2 separate regions of the Homo sapiens genome follow, and region 2 is linked to region 1. The links come from fine-mapping of genetic effects on gene expression. A gene starts in region 1. The other region holds a variant in brackets. All regions are shown on one strand. Distances are from middle to middle.

The links. PIP is the estimated chance that this variant, and not a neighbour inherited with it, causes the effect.
Region 2: its variant is the best candidate, but not a certain one, in a credible set for the expression of DNAH17 in monocytes after Pam3CSK4 (Quach 2016, PIP 0.67).

What each region holds. Positions count from the first base shown.
Region 1 is chr17:78,572,658-78,583,440 of GRCh38, reverse strand. DNAH17 (dynein axonemal heavy chain 17) reads left to right here and starts at 6,045. Exons shown (of 81, transcript NM_173628.4): 1 at 6,045-6,146; 2 at 8,359-8,728; 3 at 10,547-10,740. The coding sequence starts at 8,384. RefSeq lists an enhancer at 2,143-2,644.
Region 2 is chr17:78,533,255-78,541,254 of GRCh38, reverse strand. DNAH17 (dynein axonemal heavy chain 17) reads left to right here. Exons shown (of 81, transcript NM_173628.4): 18 at 1,375-1,518; 19 at 3,774-3,956. Among named protein-coding and RNA genes, the nearest start is that of DNAH17, 40 kb to the left of the region's middle. RefSeq lists an enhancer at 7,688-8,000. The variant C/T (reference allele first, on the strand shown) is at 4,513.

The DNA of each region.
Region 1 (10,783 bases):
GGGGGATCACATTTCAACATGAAATTTCGAGGAGACAAGCATCCAAACCACATCACAGCCAAAGACTACATTTCCCAGCCTCCTGTGCAGTGAGATGTGACCATGTGACCTGGCGTGACCAATATGGGGTGAGCCAACGAGCTATGAGCAGCCTCTGGGTTAAGGCATTCAGGTTACATCTCTTCCCTCCAGTTCAGTTCTTCTGGCTTCCCAGGGTTGGTGCAGTGGGCAGGGAGGAAGCCACATGGGAGTGGTGGTGTGGAGAGAAAGAATGGGAAAGTAGAAATATATGTTCCAGGCCATTCTCTTTTTGAGACAGCGTCTCACCCAGGCTGGAGTGCAATGGTGTGATCTCGGCTCACTGTAATCTCTGTTTCCCAGATTCAGGTGATTCTCCTGCCTCAGCCTCCCGAGTAGCTGGGACTACAGGTGCGTGCCACCATGCCCGGCTAATTTTTTGTATTTTTAGTAGAGACAGGGCTTCACCATATTGGCCAGGCTGGTCTCGAACTCCTGACCTTGTGATCCACTTGCCTTGGCCTCCCAAAGTGCTGGGATTACAAGTGTGAGCCACCCTGCCTGGCCAGGCCATTCTTTAGAGAAATGTGGCAGTGAAGAGGCGTAGAGATGGAGAGGGCGAAGAGCTTGAACAGGATTGCTTTTTCCAAGATGGTAGTGACTTGAGCTGTTTGAAAGATGATAGAAGAGGTTGGAGACAGATGAGGAAAGGATTGGACTGCTCATGCTGTATATCATATACGCGTATCAGTGCCCTCCAGGGAAGCAGAACCAATAGGCAAGATAGAGGGACAGCAGTTTCATGAGGATTGGCTCACGTGATTATGAAGGCTGAGAAGTCCCACTCTGCTGTCTGCAAACTGGAGAACCAGGAAAGCCCACAGTGTAGTTTAGTCCAAGTCTGAAGGCCTGGGAAGCAGGGGCGCTGATGGTGTCAACAGCAGCCCAAGGGCAAGAGAAGATGAGATGTCTCAGCCCAGACACAAAGGCAGGAGCAGATGGGTGAATTTCTCTTTCTGCTTTTGGTTCTATTCAAGACCTTGAAGAATTAGGGGATGCCTGCCCACTGGGGAGGGCAATCTACCAAGTTCACTATCAAATGCCAGGCTCATCCAGAAACCCCCTCACAGACACACCCAGAATTAATGCTTAATCTGGGCACCATGGCTGTTCCAGCTGATGGGTAAAATGAACTATGTGCTGGCACAGACTGGGAGGTTTAAAGAGCGGAGATTCATGTTCTCACAGTTCTTGAGGCTGGAAGTCGGAGATCAGGGACCAGCATGGTTGGGTTCTGGTGAGGACCCTCACCTGGGTTATAGACTCTGACTTCTTGCTGTGTCCTCGCAGGGTGGAGAGAGAAAGAGATCTCTCTTTTGTTGTTATTATTTTTTGAGATGGAGTCTGGCTCTGTGGCCCAAGCTGTAGTGCAATGGCATGATCTCAGCTCACTGCAACCTCTGCCTGCAGGGTTCAAGCGACTCTTCTGCCTCAGCCTCTCTAGTAGCTGGGATTACAGGCACCTGCCACCATGCCCAGCTATTTTTTTTTTTTTTTTTTGTATTTTTAGTAGAGACGAGGTTTTACCATGTTGGTCAGGCTGGTCTTGAACTCCTGACCTCAGGTAATCCACCCACCTGGGCCTCCCACACTGCTGGGATTACAGGCGTGAGCCACCATTCCCAGCTGCTCTTTCTCTTCTTAAAATCCCACTGAATTATAGCCCCTCTCTAATGACCTCATTTGACTTTACCTCCTAAGGACCCCATCTCAGATACAGCCATGTTGGGGGTTAAAGCTTCAGCATATGAATGCTACCCTATTTGGAAAAAGGGCCTTTGCAGATGTGATTAAGAATCTGGAGATGATGATGTAATCCTGGATTACGTGGGGAGAACCTAAATGCCCTCCCAGGGGTCCTTGTAAGAGAGAGACAAAGGGAGATTGCTCCCAACACACACAGAGCTGGCTGTGTGAGGACAGAGGCAATGATGGGAGGGATGCAGCCACAGGCCAGGAATGCCGAGGACTGCTTGATGGCGGCCACCAAAGGCTGGAAAAGGCCAAGAAGTCTCCCAGAGCTGCGGAGGGAGCACAGCTCTGCCCGACACCTTGATTCAGACCTCAGCCCCCGGGAGAGAGAACTTTTTGTTGTCTTAGCCGCCTAAGGTTGTGGTGCTTTGATAGCAGCCACAAGAAACTGCGACAGTATCTAAGCAGAACATGGAGGAGAACCACGTGGGTACTCAAGCCGGAGAGGCTGTGTTGCACACGACAGGAGAGCTGAGGAGCCCAGCGGGACTGGGAGGTGACCCAGAGATCAGCAGCAGGAAGCTGCTACCTCCCCAGGGGGAAGGAGGTGACATCCCAGGGTCGAGGGCAGGGCCACAGGCAGAAGCTGAAGAAGGATGGAGCTCCTGTGCCTTCCAGGAGGCTCATGAAGTGTAGAACCTGCCACCCGGTGATCGCTCAGAAAACGGTAGCCAGGACTCTTCTTAGGCCAATGTGGGCATGAGCTGGCCAGCTCTCCTTTGCAATAAGCACCATGTGTTTCTGGAACCAGGAATGCCCTTCTTGCCCCTAACGCCCCATGGCTCAGGGATACTCATCCTCAGAACTGTGGCCGAGGAAGCTGACGTCTCCAGAGGGGCCTGGTTACTAGCTCAAGTGGCAGACAGCTGGAATTTGTGGGGGCTTGCTGAGTACCCCTGTGTCTGGGAGCTCTGGGGTGATATGCAGAACTGAAGTGACGGTTTAGTGGCACTGATTTTGCTCCTGGATGTTGGTGTGGGACAGTGCCAACTTCTGTGGTGGACACACCCTAAGATTGTACAAAGTCTGTTCCGTTCATTGCCCTTCCCTGGTAGCTTCTGGAGAGCCCGAGGGTGGCCTTCCTATCCTCACATGGCAGGGATGCTGCCGGGCACCCTGCTGCCAATGTGGCTGCCCTCAGCCCACCGGGGACAGGACCCTGCCACCCCTCCCATGTCCCTCTGAGCCGGGACAGAGGTCTTCCTTCACCTCTACTTTTAGTTTATTATGAAGAATGCTGCTGCGAATATGTGTGTGTTTTGATTTCTCCCTGGTGCACCCCTAGGAGGGGGTAGCTAATTGGTAGCCCCATGTTTAACCTTTTGGGGAACTGTCACTTTTCCAAAGTGGCTGCAATGTTTATACCATATCAGCCGTGGATGAGGGTGCCAATTCCTTCACATCCTTGCCCGTGCCTGGTGTTTTGTTTTGTTTTTTTCTGTCTTCTCAATTTTATCCATTCTAGTGGGAATGAATTGGGGTTTTTTTGTGTGGGAAAATACACAGAGCATAACATTTACCATTTTAGCCATTTTAAGTGTACAGTTCCGTGGCACTGAGTACACTTACATCGTTGTAAAAACACCACCACCATCCATCTCTAGAACTTCTTCACTATCCCAAATTGAAACTCTGACCCTGTTACCAGAAAGGGGTCCAGATCCAGACCCCAAGAGAGGGTTCTTGGATCTCGTGCAAGAAGAAATTCAGGGTGAGTCCATAGAGTAAAGTGAAACAAGTTTATTAAGAAAGTAAAGGAATGAAAGAATGGCAACTCCATAGGCAGAGCAGCCTGAGGGCTGCTGGTTGCCCATTTTTATGGTTATTTCTTGAGGATATGCTAAACAAGGGGTGGATTATTCATGCCTCCCCTTTTTAGACCATCTAGGGTAACTTCCTGACATTGCCATGGCATTTGCAAACTGTTACGGTGCTGGTGGGAGTGTAGCAGTGAGGACCACCAGAGGTCATCTTGGTTTTGGTGGGCTTTGGCCAGCTTCTTTACCGCAACCTGTTTTATCAGCAAGCTCTTTATGACTTGTGCTGAACCCCCGTCTCACCCTGTGACTAAGAATGCCTTCACCTCCTGGGAATGCAGTAGGGCCTTATTTTACCCAGACCCCATTCAAAATGGAGTGGCTCTGGTTCAAATGCCTCTGACGGCCCCATTAAAAAATAAATTCCTATTCTCCCTCCCTAGCCCTTGGCAACCTCCATTCTACTTAATGAATTTGACTACTCTAGGGACCTCATTGAAGTTCATTTTACTTTGATTTGCATTTTCCTAATGGCTAATGATATCAAGCTGCTTTCCATGTGCATACTGGTCATTTGTGTATCTTTCTTGAAGAAATATCTATATCCTTTACTCCTTAAAATTAGGTTGTTTTATTGTATTACGACAAGTCCCTTGTCAGATATATGATTTGCAAATATTTTCTCCCATTCTATGGGTCATCTTTTCCCTTTTTTAGGGTGCCTTTTGAAGCATAAAAGTTTTTGGTTTTGATGAAGTTAAACTTATCTTTTTTCCTTTGCTCACTTATGCTTTTGGCATCATATGTAAGACATCATTGCCTCATCTGAGGTCAGATCAACTCCTGTGTGCTCTTCTAAGAGTTTTATAGTTTTAGCTCTTACATTTGGCTCTTGCATTCTGTTAATCTATGCTGAGTTAATTCGTGTAGATGGCGTGAGGTAAGGGCCCAGCTTCGTTTTTCCGCATGTGGGTATTCAGTTATTCCAATACCATTTGTTGAAAAGGTGATTCTTTTCCCATTGAGTTGTCTTGGCACCTTTGCTAACTCAATCGTCCATAAATGGATGCATTTATTTCTGGAACCTCAATTCTATTCTAGTGATCTCTGTCTATTGTTATGCTGGTAGCACTGTCTTGATAACTGTAGCTTTGTAGTGAGTTTTGAAATCAGGAAGTGTGTGTCTTCAGACTTTGTTCTTTTTCAAAGTTGTTTGGATGGTTTTTGTTCCCTCATACTTCCCTATAAAATCTAGGGTCATTTCTACAAAAAAGGCAGCTGAGAGTTTGATAAGGATTGTGTTGAATCTGCAGATCAACTTGAGGAGAACTGTCGTCATCTTAACAATCTTCTTTTTTTTTTTTTTTTGAGACGGAGTCTCACTCTGTCTCCCAGGCTGGAGGGCAATGGCGGGATCTCGGCTCACTGCAAGCTCCGCCTCCCAGGTACATGCCATTCTCCTGCCTCAGCCTCCTGAGTAGCTGGAACTACAGGCACCCACCACCACGCCCGGCTAATTTTTTTGTATTTTTAGTAGAGATGGGGTTTCACCGTGTTAGCCAGGATGGTCTCGATCTCCTGACCTCGTGATCCACCCGCCTTGGCCTCCCAAAGTGCTGGGATTACAGGCGTGAGCCATCACGCCTGGCCCGTCTTAACAATCTTCTAACCCATGAACACAGCATGTCCTTCCATTGATTTAGGTTGTCTTTATTTCCATGATGTTTTGCAGTTTTCAGTGTACAAGTCTTAACACTTCTTTTTAAAGTTTATTCCTAAGTATTTTGTTGTTTTTGACGCTATTGTAAACGAAATTATTTTGATGCTGTTGTAAATGGGAGTTGTTTTCTAAATTTCATGATCAGATTGTTCATTATGGGGACAATTGTTTTCTAAATTTCATCATCAGATTGTTCATAATATAATTACAGAGAAATATAATTAATTTTCAAATATCTTGTATACTGCAAACTTGCTGAATTCCTCTATTAGCTCTACAATTTTATGGATTTCTTGGGATTTTCTACATACAAGATCACCTTATTGTAAACAGAGATAATGTCTTCCTTTCCACTTTGGGAGGATTGCTTGAGGCCAGGAGTTTGAGACCAGCCTGGGCAACAGAGTGAGACCTCATCTCTACAAAAAGTACAAAAATTAGCCAGGTGTGGTGATGTGCGTCTGTTGTCCTAACTTCTCAGGAGGCTGAGGGGGGGGGATCACGTAAGCCCAGGAGTTTGAGGCTGCAGTGAGTTATGATTGTACCACTGCACTCCAGCCTGGGTAACAGAGCGCGACCCTGTCCCCCCTCCAACCTCCCCTCAAAATGATCATCTAAGAGCCTTTCCACTGTGGGGTGACGGTTGGTTCCTCATTTGCTGCGCTATCATTGGTTACTTGGGTCCCAAGGGGAAGGTTCTAGAAGCCCCAGGTACCGTGAGGAGACTCCCAGAAGTTATGTGGCAGTTGGAGCCCCTCGAGGGAAGGGAGCCATTTTCTTTCCTGGTTTGGGAAAGAGTTGCTCATCAGTTTGCGGGAGAAGCTGTTTGCCTTCAGCTGGTGAGCGGCCTTCAACCATGCTGGGGGAGTCGGAGGCCAAGGTGGAGGGAGCAGGGAGGCCTTCAGAGGATGGAGGTGGGACCTAGGCCCTGGCAGACAGCAGACCCTCCACTTACCCCAGAAGTGGCTCTGCTCGCCACCGGGAGCTGTTCATGGCTCTGGGACCCCGAGGCTGGCTGCCACGTACCAGCCTGACCCCTTCCAGGGCTCCAGACTCTTCCCTGCTCCTGGGAAGGCCTTGCCTCAGCCCCCTGGCTTCTCCTGGAAGCCCCTAGCCCCAGCTTCCTCCTGTGGAGTCCTGAAGGCCTGGGGCATGGGCCACCTCCCAGAGAAGCCGTCTCTGCCCCTCCGGAAGCATGGCCTGGGACAACCCTATTGTTAACTGGGACCTCCTGGCCTTCAGCCCAGGAAACGGCTGGGTGGGAGCCTGAGATGAGACCTCCCGATCGTGCAAGAAACTTGCGGGGTGTAGGGGCCCCTCAGCCCACACATGTTATGGCTTGGGAGGCAGCCCACCCCATGCCGTTCTTGGAAGAAAAGATGACTTTGTGAAAGCCCAAATCCACAAAATCAGTAAACCAGAGGATGTTTCCCTCCAGTCCAGTCGCCTGACCAGCTTGGCGAGACTTCCAATCAGGAACCTTCCAGGACTCGGGCTCCCCTGAGTTCCTGATCCCCCTAGGAAATGACGACGTGACGCGTCCCCGGGTCTCGGAGATCCTGGGTGGAGATTAATTCAGCAGCATGCTGAAAGCCCTGTGGGAACCTGGTGAACGAGTCATCTCCATAAATGCCACGCGGTGCTCCTCCTACTTGCCTGGTGGTGTCCCCTTTTTCTTTCACAGATGTGCCTGAATCGGGTGGCTTTGCTCGTGGACCGCCATGTTTCTGCCATTTGCTGGCCAAATATTCCCCAAGTCCTCTCTCAGAGATGTTTGGAGCCTTGAATAAATCTCAGACCATTTGAATAGCATCCAAATGCTATCCACTACTGCTTCCCATCATATAGTTGTTTTGCCGATATATAGTGGCCAGGGTGAAATAAACCTGTTCCGTGGTATTACGTGTCTTTTGGGGAACTGTAGGCTGTTACAAACTTAAAAGCAATAGCTTGGGTCAAACCAAAAGGCAGAATTTGTGAGTGCTTCCAACGTCATCTGTCCACCCTGATGCTTTTCAGCAGCTGCCAGGTCTGGAGCAGGCCAGCCCCAGCCCACGGACCCCCAGAGCAGCTGAATACCCCAGGGTTCCCCTTGAAATTCAGGAGCTGCATACCTCCCAGATTGTGATGAAAACACAGCATCAGGCGACCCTTTGCATTCAACCCTGCCCTTGCAGAACTCGCCTCCAAGGCCCCCACCTCAGGCCTCTTGCCAGAGCCTGTCTTTATTTGAAACTTTGGTATTTTGTTCATAAATTTGTTTGCATTCATTTTGATGTTTAAAAATATTGACATGCCTTTTCTCTTGATGACTGTTTGGGTGTGTCTTTAAATTCTGTAAGTACCTCACTTGCCTAAACTTTGGGACTTCAGGGTGTTCTTTAAGGGGATCCCTTCCCCCCAATTCTCTAGTTAACCCTACCCCCGAGCATCTGAGCAGCTTGTGAGGGGTCTGTCAGGAATTTGCAGCTCGATTCTTTTAGGGGTGCACGCTGGGGGCTGGAGGGAGAAAGGGTGCAGAGCAGAGTGAAAGTTAAGGTGCACCACGGCTGCGGCTAAGACTGAGCGCTGAGCCTCACGGCCTGCACGTGGGGTCTGCTTCCTTCTTGCGTTTCACACATACTCTGGGGCTGCGACGTCTTTTATTGCTTTCCCAGGACCTTTCAACCTGACCCCCCAGCCTCTTGTTCTGCCTTTTCCTACCCCATCCCCTTCACACTGTCTGGTTGCGGCCATTTCCTTTTCTCTCTTTCTCCAGCATTCATCTCTATCTTTCCCATCCTCTGAACTTTATGGTCACAGGATTGTAAGCACACACCACTTTTGGGCAGCCTCACTCCCGGGGCACCCCCCATGGCGGGGCCGGGGCAGGTGCCAGCACCTGCTAAAGCACCCCCACCCCAACCCAACCACAGCTAAAAACTGCACACTCTCGACCAACTGTTTTGTTCCTGCTCCGGTAGAAACAGAGATTTCCTGCGGTGCCAGGGATGGGTGGGAAATTGGGGAGCCCGGGAGACAGTTCGTACCTGTTTCTTGCACTCTTAACAGATACACAGTGTAAGGAAAGGCCAAGATGACAATGGCCCCGGACGTCAGACTAGAGTATCTGGAGGAAGTTGCCTCCATCGTCCTGAAGTTCAAGCCGGACAAGTGGAGCAAGCTGATAGGCGCCGAGGAGAACGTGGCCCTGTTCACAGAGTTCTTTGAAAAGCCCGACGTCCAGGTGCTGGTGCTGACGCTCAATGCAGCCGGCATGATCATACCCTGCCTGGGCTTCCCCCAGTCCCTCAAGTCCAAAGGGGTTTACTTCATCAAGACAAAGTCCGAGAACATCAACAAGGACAACTACAGGGCCCGGCTCCTTTACGGCGACATCAGCCCCACACCCGTGGACCAGCTGATCGCGGTGGTGGAGGAGGTGAGTGCGTCCAGGCTGCCATCCGGGGTGTCGAGCACGACCGACTTCTCGGGAGCGGCCTTGAGTCCTGCTGCTCAGCCTGGAGTCCCTGGGCCAGCAGCAGCTGCAGAGCCGGGGAGGGATTGGAAATGCAGGCGCTCGGGCCCCGTCCACCCTGACCTGCTGAGACAGACCTGCTTGCTTTTGGTTTTTAAATTTTTTTTTTTTTTTGAGACAGGGTCTCACTCTGCTTCCCAGGCTGGAGTGCAGTGGTGGGAGCACAGCTCACTGCAGCCTCAACCTCCTAAGCTCAACCAATCCTCCAGCCTCAGCCTCCTGAGTAGCTGGGACCACAGGCATGCACCACCACACCTGGCTAATTTTCGTATTTTTTGGTAAGAGATGAGGTCTCACCAAAAAATAGCCTGTTGCCCAGGCTGGTCTCAAGACTCCTGGGCTCAAGCGATCCTCCTGCCTCAACCTCCCAAACTGTTGGGATTATAGGCGTGAGCCATCATGCCCGGCCACAGACCTGCTGTCTAACAAGACCTCCAGGTGGTGCTCGTGCCCTTGAAGTCTGAGAAGCCCCGAGCATCCCCTTGTTCTCTCTGGACAGCATTGAGACTGCCATGCTGTGCCGGGTACGGTTGCTGCCCATGGCCTGGGAAGGTGGGGACTGAGTACTGGCAGATAGGTTTCTCCAATTTTGAGACTTTGACTTAAGAAAGGGGAAAAAATGGAGTGTCATTTTATGTGTCCCTCTGCTGTCCCCCTTGGCAGGTGCTGTGTAGGTGGGGGGGACACACTTTGGGGATTCGGACCTCCAGAATGGGGGTGCCTTATCCTTCCTGGTCATCACTCTTCTCATCTGCAGTACAGGGGCCTGTGTGCTTCGCTTGTACACCAGACATTTTCTCACAGTCCTGGAGGCTAGAGGTTGAAGTTGAAGGTGTCGGCGGGGTTGGTTTTCCCCAAGGCCTCTCTCCTTGACTTGCAGATGGACATCTTCTCCCTGGGTCCTCATGTGGTCGGCCTTCTGTGCATGTCTAATCTCCCCTCCTCGTAAGGACACCTGTCAGACTAGGGCCCACCCTAGTAATCTGATTTTAATTACTCACCTCTTTTTTTTTTTTTTTGACAGTATTTTTGCTCTGTTGTCCAGTCTGGAGGGCAATGGTGTGATCTCAGCTCACTGCAACCTCCACCTCCCAGGTTCAAATGATTCTCTTGCCTCAGCCTCCCAAATAGCTGGGATTATAGGCAGGTGCCACCATGCCTGGCTAATTTTTATATTTTCAGTAGAGACGAGGTTTCACCATGTTGGCCAGGCTGGTCTCAAACTCTTGACCTCAGGTGATGTACCTGCCTCGGCCTCCCTAAGTCCTAGGATTTACAGGTATGAGCTACCGCCCCCAGCCCTTACTCACCTCTTTAAAGACCCTATCTCCAAATAGTCACATTCTAAGGTGCTGGGAGTTAGGGCTTCAGCAGATGGATTTGGGGGACACAGTTTGACCCATCACAGTCCTCCTAGGCTTTTAGCAAGGAGTGTGTGCTATGGGTGCAAGAGCTTGGGGATGGCTTTGGTACCACCAGGACAGGGCAGCTGGTATAAACTCCATGACCGGCCACACCTCCTTCTGGAAGAAGGATCCAGTTTTCCCAGGGCTCCAGACACCAGGTCTTTGGAATCCCCCTGGGGACCTGGCTCTGTGCGGGACCCAGTTTTCCCAGGGCTCCAGACACCGGGTCTTTGGAACCCCCCGGGGACCTGGCTCTGTGCGGTTGCCGAGCTGGTGAAGGCACAGGGGGCGGAACCACAGAAGTGTTTCCTTTTAGGTCCTCTCTTCTCTGTTAAACCAAAGTGAGAACATGGCTGGATGGCCCCAGGTGGTCTCGGAAGACATCGTGAAGCAGGTCCACAGGCTGAAGAATGAAATGTTTGTGATGAGTGGCAAGATCAAAGGCAAAACCTTGCTGCCTATTCCGGAGCACCTGGGCAGCCTGGATGGCACGCTGGAGTCCATGGAGAGGTGTGTGGGCCCAGCTGCTTCCGGCTGCCGCTGGGTGGGGAAG
Region 2 (8,000 bases), 41 kb after region 1:
CTGCTCACCCCCCCACCCACCCATCCGCTCACCCCCCCACCCACCCATCCGCTCACCCCCCCACCCCGCTCACCCACCCATCTGCTCATCCCCCCACCCCGCTCACCCCCCCACCCCGCTCACCCCCCCACCCCGCTCACCCCCCCACCCCGCTCACCCACCCATCCGCTCACCCACCCATCCGCTCACCCACCCACGCCACCCACCCATCCGCTCACCCACCCACGCCACCCACCCATCTGCTCACCCACCCATCCGCTCACCCACCCACGCCACCCACCCATCCACCCATCCACTCATCCACCGATCCACCCACCCACCCACCCACCCACCCATCCACCCACCCACCCACCCACCCACCCATCCATCCACCCATCCACCCACCCATCCACCCACCCATCCACCTACTTACACATCTACCCACCCCATTCATCTGTCCACTCATCCACCCACCCCACCCACCCATCCACCCACCCCACCCACCCATCCACTCACCCCACCCACCCACCCACTCACCCATCTACTCACACATCTGCCCACCCCATTCATCTCTCCACCCATCCACCCATCCATCTGTCCATCTACTCATACATCTACCCACCCCGTTCATCCATCCATGGACTCACACACCTACCCACTCTATTCATCTATTCATTCACCCACCCCACTTATCCAGCCACGTACCCATCCATCCACTCGGCCACCCACCCACCCATCCACCCATCCACTCACCCACCCACCCAGTCACCCACCCACCCATCCACCCACCCACTCACACATCCACATACCCACCCACCCACCCACCCATCCATCCATCCATCCATCCATCCACCCACTCACCCATCTACCAACCCCATCCATCCATCCAGCTATCCGTCCACCCCATTCATCTGTCCATCCACCCACCCCACCCACCCACCAGCCCCTGCTCTGTGCTAGGCCTACTGCTGAGTGCTGGGGGTACAGTGGTGGAGAGGATGGTCAACCTTCACCTTCATGAATTTGGGCATCAAAAGGGCATGCAGACCAAAGACAAAGACAAATAAAATAATTCTGAGTGGCCCTCTGAGCCATGGTAGGCATAAATAACAGTTTGCTAGAGGAAACCCAACTAGAGATGGAGGATTCCTTTGGGAGGAAGGGACATTTGAGCTGAAATCAAAAAGATTGGAAGCCAGACCCAGCAAGAAAGTGAGGGAGCAGCCGTGCAAAGCCTCGAGTAGGAAGGCGGCCAGCACCAGCAAGATGCTCAAAGCAGCCCCGTGTGTCCGGCGTGTGAACATGGACGGGCGGTCCAGAGAGGCACTAAACAGTGTGATCAAAGAGCAAGCACAGCCAGTGAAGTGAGGCCCAACTGTGCGCTTCTGTTTGCAGGAAAACGCAGAACTATTCAGGGCAGACACACTGAGCCTGCCCTGGAAGGATTATGTCATCTACATTGACGACATGGTCTTAGATGAATTTGACCAGTTCATTCGCAAATCTCTGAGTTTCCTAATGGACAACATGGTTATAGATGTAAGTTATCAACATAAGGTAATATATTTATGTATATGTATTCTTATCTGTTAGAATCTATAGTTTCTAGTTTCTTGATGAACAGGCTATCATTTTATAAATAGACTTATTAAAATATATCTTATGCAATCTACTTGACCTGGTTTTAAACCTGGAAGTCCTGCATTCCAGAATCCCCTCAGTCCCAGGCACTCAGGACCACTGGTCACTTTAAATCTGCCATAACATAAATTGGCTGCAGAAAACCTCAAGAGACCTAAGAGGCTGGTCCTGCCTCACTGCCAGGTGAAGGAAAGTGGACACCACTGCCCCCTACTCATGTGGATTGGGGGGAGGGTCTCCTGTCAGCAACAACAGCCACTCACCTACTTGATTATATACGGCTGAGTAGAAGGTAAACCAGTCAGCAAAGAGGTTGTGCTGGTTAATCCCATGGAGGCATGCTTTCCATGGCAATGGCCCCTTTCCTACCTGTATCTTCTTTTTATTTTATTTTTTTATTTTTTTGAGACAGAGTCCCGCTCTGTTGCCCAGGCTGGAGTGCAGTAGCATGATCTCAGCTCACTGCAAACTCCACCTCCTGGGTTCAAGCAGTTCTCTACCTCAGCCTCCCAAGTAGCTGGGATTATAGGTGCCCGCCACCACGCCTGGCTAATTTTTGTATTTTTAGTAGAGGCAAGGGTTCACCATCTTAGCCAGGCTGGTCTTGAATTCCTGACCTCATGATCGACCAACCTCGGCCTCCCAAAGTGCTGGGATTACAGGCGTGAACCACTGTGCCCAGCCCTGCATCTTTTTTGTTGAGATGGTTTCTAAATGATTTTGAGTACCGCCAGGAGGCCAAGATCAAAGGCTCCCCCAGGCTACCAACAACAAAGGAACGTGGCAGTGTCGTGCCCTTGTACCGACCAGGGAGGGTGGATGGTGTTTGAGTCTGGCATATGGGTCTCAGATGCCAGCTGGTAACCAGTCACAGACCCAAAATTCAGTTGACGAAAGTACTCGTCACTACAGACTGTCCCAGTGAAAGCGTCTCAACAAAAACCATAAAGAAGTCCCAGTAACAAAGGGTTCTCCTCAAAGAGTTCCAGGGAGTCCTCCTACTTTGTGAGTAGCCTGGGGGCAGGAGCCGACCTGAGTCTTTAGAGAAGTCTGGTCACACAATTGACCGTTTGTCCCAATTAGCACCTCACTCAGATACTGATACAGCCCCCTCCTGCTCATAGACAAATTGGGGGGCTCAAAAGCTCATAACCCACAGGTCCAATGGGGACTCATTCAGGGGGAGATCAGTGGCCACAGTGTGATCTCACAGCCTGGTGGATCCTGGCCCACATTTTGAGAATCGTTAGTTTGGCAGGAAGAGCACTTGGGTTCTCAATCCCATCACTGTAAACCAGAGCAGCACCTGCAGCCCTGCAGCCTCACAGGGGCCTCCAGAACTCTGTAAACGGGGACTTCCAAGGGAGAGGGACAGGCAGGCTTGGCCAGCCCCTGCAGTACCTGCTTTGTGTGTCAGTGATTCATTTAGCCCCTGTAGTAACCCAGAACAATGGAAACAATGTCTCCATTCTTTTTTTTTTTTTTTTTTTTTTTTTGGAGACAGAGTTTTGCTCTTGCCCAGGCTGGAGTGCAATGGCACAATCTCAGCTCATTGCAACCTCCGCCTCTTGGGTTCAAGCGATTTCCTGCCTCAGCCTCCCGAGTAGCTGGGGTTCCAGACACCCACCACCAGGCCCAGCTAATTATTTTGTATTTTTAGTAGAGACGGGGCTTCGCCATGTGGGCCAGGCTGGTCTCAAACTCCTGACCTCAGGTGATCCACCCGCCTTGGCCTCCCAAAGTGCTGGGATTACAGGCATGAGCCACTGCGCCTAGCCAACAATGTCTCCATTCTATAAAATATTTAGCCTCATTTTATATATTTGGGGAAACTGGGAGTTAAGTGACTCCCCAAGGCCTCAGAGCTGGCAAGTAGCAGGTGTGGGCTTTGAACCGAGGTCTGAGTTCTACCTGATCCTGCCCCTCCCCTTGCCCCAACCTGCCCCTGCCTGCTTTTGGCCTTGTGGCTGTACATTTGGCTCTGTAGCGATTGCTCAAGGAGCGGGGTGCGCTGAGACACGAGCTCTCAGAAGCTTCCCAGATAAGTGGAAGGCAGTGACACATTGATGGTACGGAGTGGATGATCAGGGCACTGAGAATCATCCGATGGAGGACAGAGGTGTTGACCACTGCCAACCCCACCCCTCTTTCAGGAGAGTATCGCTCCCCTGTTTGAGATCCGCATGGAGCTGGACGAGGATGGGCTGACCTTCAACCCGACCCTGGAGGTGGGCTCAGATCGCGGCTTCCTGGCACTGATCGAGGGCCTGGTCAACGACATCTACAACGTAGCCAGGCTCATCCCTCGGCTGGCCAAGGACAGGATGAACTACAAGGTCAGTCCTGGCCTCTTCTGGCCGTACACAGGGTCATCCATTGCTTTCCCCATTTGGTGTTGCCGCCCTAACTCGGCAAGGCTTCGCCGTTTACCTTTTCTTTTTTTCTTTTTTTTTTTTTGAGACGGAATCTCACTCTGTCGCCCAGGCTGGAGTGCAGTGGCGCGATCTTGGCTCACTGCAACCTCCGCCTCCTGGGTTCAAGCCATTCTCCTGCCTCAGCGTCCCGAGTAGCTGGGATTACAGGCACCCGCCACCACACCCGGCTAATTTTTTTATTTTTTTTTAGTAGAGACTGGGTTTAACCGTGTTAGCCAGGATGGTCTGGATCTCCTGAACTCATGATCCACCCGCCTCGGCCTCCCAAAGTGCTGGGATTATAGGCGTGAGCCACCGCGCCCGGCCCTGCTTACCTTTTAAATGACATCGTGTGACCTCTAGGATGACATGGCCACTTCTCTCCCCACTCCCACATCTGTCGTCCTTCCCAAAGCAGCTTCTTCTCAGTCAACCTGCCTGGGTTTCATTCCCTCATCATCCTTCCAACCCCCCGACA[C/T]GATGCCAAGAGGGTAACCTTTCCCAACTTCCTGACTGTTCACTCAGTCCTGTAATTTTTTTGAGACAAGGTCTCACTCTGTCACCCAGGCTGGAGTGCAGTGGTTCAATCTCGGCTGACTGCAGCCTCTGCCTCCCGGGCCCAATTGATCCTCCCGCCTCAGTCTCCCAAGTAGCTGGGATTACGAGCATGCATCACCAAGCCCAGCTTGGTGATGTATTTTTTTGTAGAGATGGGGTTTTGCCATGTTGTTGCCCAGAGTGGTCTTAAACTTCTTAATTTTTTTATTTTTTGAGACAGAGTCTTGCTCTGTTGCCCAGGCTGGAGTGCAGTAGCATAATCTCAGCTGACTGCAACCTCCGCCTCCTGGGTTCAAGCGATTCTCCTGCCTCAGCCTCCTGAGTAGCTGGGACTACAGGTGCATGCCACCATGCCTGGCTAATTTTTCTTTTTTTTTATATATTTTTAGTAGAGACGGGGTTTCACCATGTTGGCCAGGATGGTCTCAATCTCCCGACCTTGTGATCCACCCGCCTTGGCCTCCCAAAGTGCTGGGATTACAGGTGTGAGCCACCGTGCCCGGCCTCAGTCCTGTAATGTAAACACTGATTCTCCCAGTACTCAGGCAATTTGACAAATGTGCCTCCCACTGCCTTCTGAAATCATCTCGTCTAAACGCATCAAACAAGACACACGGAGAGCCTGGCCAGGCTCTGGGGTAGGAAGGACAACAAAAGTCATGGGAAATTCAGCTCCCCGCTTAAGGGAGGTTTGAGGTGGTGTGTTTGTCAAAGCACCTATTTGTATAGCAATAAAAAAAAATCTGAAAAGACTTAAGTGACCTAAATGTTTGTGGAAGAGGGGAGTGGCTTGACCAATTCTGGCCCAAACCCAGATTCTGTGAATTGTCACAATGAGCCAAGGATGGAAAGGTGTTGTGACAGGTTATTAGACATTTATCAAGTTACAGAACAATGTTTAGAATATGGTTTCATTTGCTTAAACAAGCAAAAATCTGGGTGAGTGCTTACCAGGAAGGGAGGAAGGAGGGGAGGGGAGAGGGATGTGGCTGCAGGCGTTTCCTCTCATGCATTTCTGCGTTGTTTGAATTGTAAAATAATGGACACGTATGATTTGTCATAACATATATTTACAGCGAGATGAGCTGTCCTGTCCAGGAGGGAGGGATGTGCGTGTGCTCGTGTGTGTACGCGTGTGCTTGGATGCATATGTGCCCGTGTGCGTATTTGCATGTGTGGTGGGGAGGCATGCTTGTACAGAGGTGACATGAGGACACGAGGGAACAGCTAATGACCTGAGAAGGTCAAGGACAGCTCCTGAGAGGAGTGGGCGTGTGAGCGGATTCTGGAAGGGTGGGAGGAGGTTTCCATGCTGAGAAGATGGCTGTGATTTTAGGCCCAAGTGCAAGCAGCAAGCTGTTCCAGAGTTGAGAATAGAATTTGCCCCAGTTATGCAGACGCTAGGTTAGCACATGTCCTCAGAATCAGTGTGTCCCGGGTGTGCCCCTCCCACTGTCCCCAAAGCAGGCTGCTCTTGGGCACCCACGGTTGCTGCAGACAGAGCTGCTCCACCCCTGGGCTCTGCCAGCACAAACACTCAGGCTGCCTTGCAGACACCCTGGGACGCTCAGGCAGAACATTCCAGAGCTGAAGGGCCTGTTGCCCAGGAGAAGGGTCCCTCGAAAGCCTGCTGGTCTAGCAGAGTCTTACCTGGTGCCAAGCTGTGGAAGACAATGAGAGAGTCAGGCATCTAGACTGCTGGGTCCCAGGGCCACTTCCCAGAGACCCAAGTACCCTAGCTTGGTGGCAGAGAGTACCCAAGGGATGCTTCCCATGGGTACCAGGGTGGCCAACCCAGAGGAGTTGGGTCAGGACAAGGAGGAGATAGAATGTGGGCCCCAGGCTGCCACAGGGATTTAGAGAGCTGAGCTGCCCACAGGGGACACCAGCAAGGGGCAGAGACCCCAGGCAGCAGGTCTCACCTGCCTCTGGTATGCCAGGCTGCCACCAGCCCAGCCCAACTGGAACTTGGATCCCACCTGGGGAGATCCAAAGGACTGCAGGGGACAATCTCAGCTGGAGCAGGTAGATGCCTGGAAGTTACAACACTGAAATCCAGAAGCACCTGCCTGTGCTCTGAACACTGCACTCCCAACCCTGAGCAGAAAGAGGGGCCATGAGGAGGGGTGGGAGCCAAATGTCAGGCACAGGCGAGCCCATGGCTGAATTCTGAAGCACACACCAAATGCTTTCCTGCAGCCACGAGGAGCTTCAGGTTTCTCTCCCCTGTGGCTTCTTTCCATCCACAACTTACATGCAGGGTGGCCCGGCCCAGCCCTAGGGCCAACCTTCCCCTTCCATCCCAGCCCCACTGACTTCACCTCCTCAATTACACCGTTTCCTCGTGCCACCCCTTACCAACGAGGTCCCCTGCACAGACAAGATCTCCATGCACATCTGGGTCCCGATGGGGCCTCTCTGCAGCTGTCATGTGGGCTCTGGGCTATAGGCTGTCTTCAGTTGTCTGGTACCTGACCCTGGGTGATTTAGGGCAGGGGAAATACTGGCTTGGTGTGAGAGTTGGGTAAAGGGGAGTGGTTGAGGGTCGGCTGGTTTGCATATGCATGCCCCCAGATGAGCCTTTTGCTATCTCAAAGAATTGCCTAGCCCTGGGAAAGGCCGGCTCTTCCTGGCCCATAAGGTTTTTTTATTTTATTTTTTTAAGATGTCAAAATTGGGCTGGGCGCATTGGCTCACGCCTGTAATCCCAACACTTTGGGAGGCTGAGGCAGGTGGATCACCTGAGGTCAGGAGTTTGAGACCAGCCTGACCAACACGGTGAAACCCCGCCTCTAATAAAAATGCAAAAAATTAGCCAGGCATGGTGGTGGGAGCCTGTAATCCCAGCTATTTGGGAGGCTGAGGCAGGAGAATCACTTGAACCTGGGAGGCAGAGGGTGTAGTGAGCTGAGATCGGGCCACTGCACTCCGGCCTGGGTGACAGACCGAAACTCTGTCTCAAAAAGAAATAAGATGTCAAAATTTCATAAGATGCAGACAATAAAAATGTGATTAATACACACACCGACCACCTTGGGATTCTCCAGTCCTGTATATAAGCCAACGAGTTCTCTCTTTGCTTAACCAGTTTGGGTTGGGTTTTCTGTCACTGGCAACTAAAAAGATCCGTATAGCACTGGCCTCTCGTGCTCTCTGCTCTAGCCACCGACAGTAGACTTCCTTTAGTTCCCCTAACACGCTGCCTCCTCCCACCACGGGGCCTTTGCACGTGCTTTGCTGTTGCCAGGAAAGCCGCTTCTCTTGCTCCTTGTCTACCCATCCATCAGCTCTCAGACCAATGGCCATTTCCTCGGGGCCATTCCCTGACCTGCTCCCCATTTCACCTGAAGCAAGGGGGAGGGTGGAGATGCTTTTTTCTGTGATTCTTTGATGAATGTCAGACCCCAT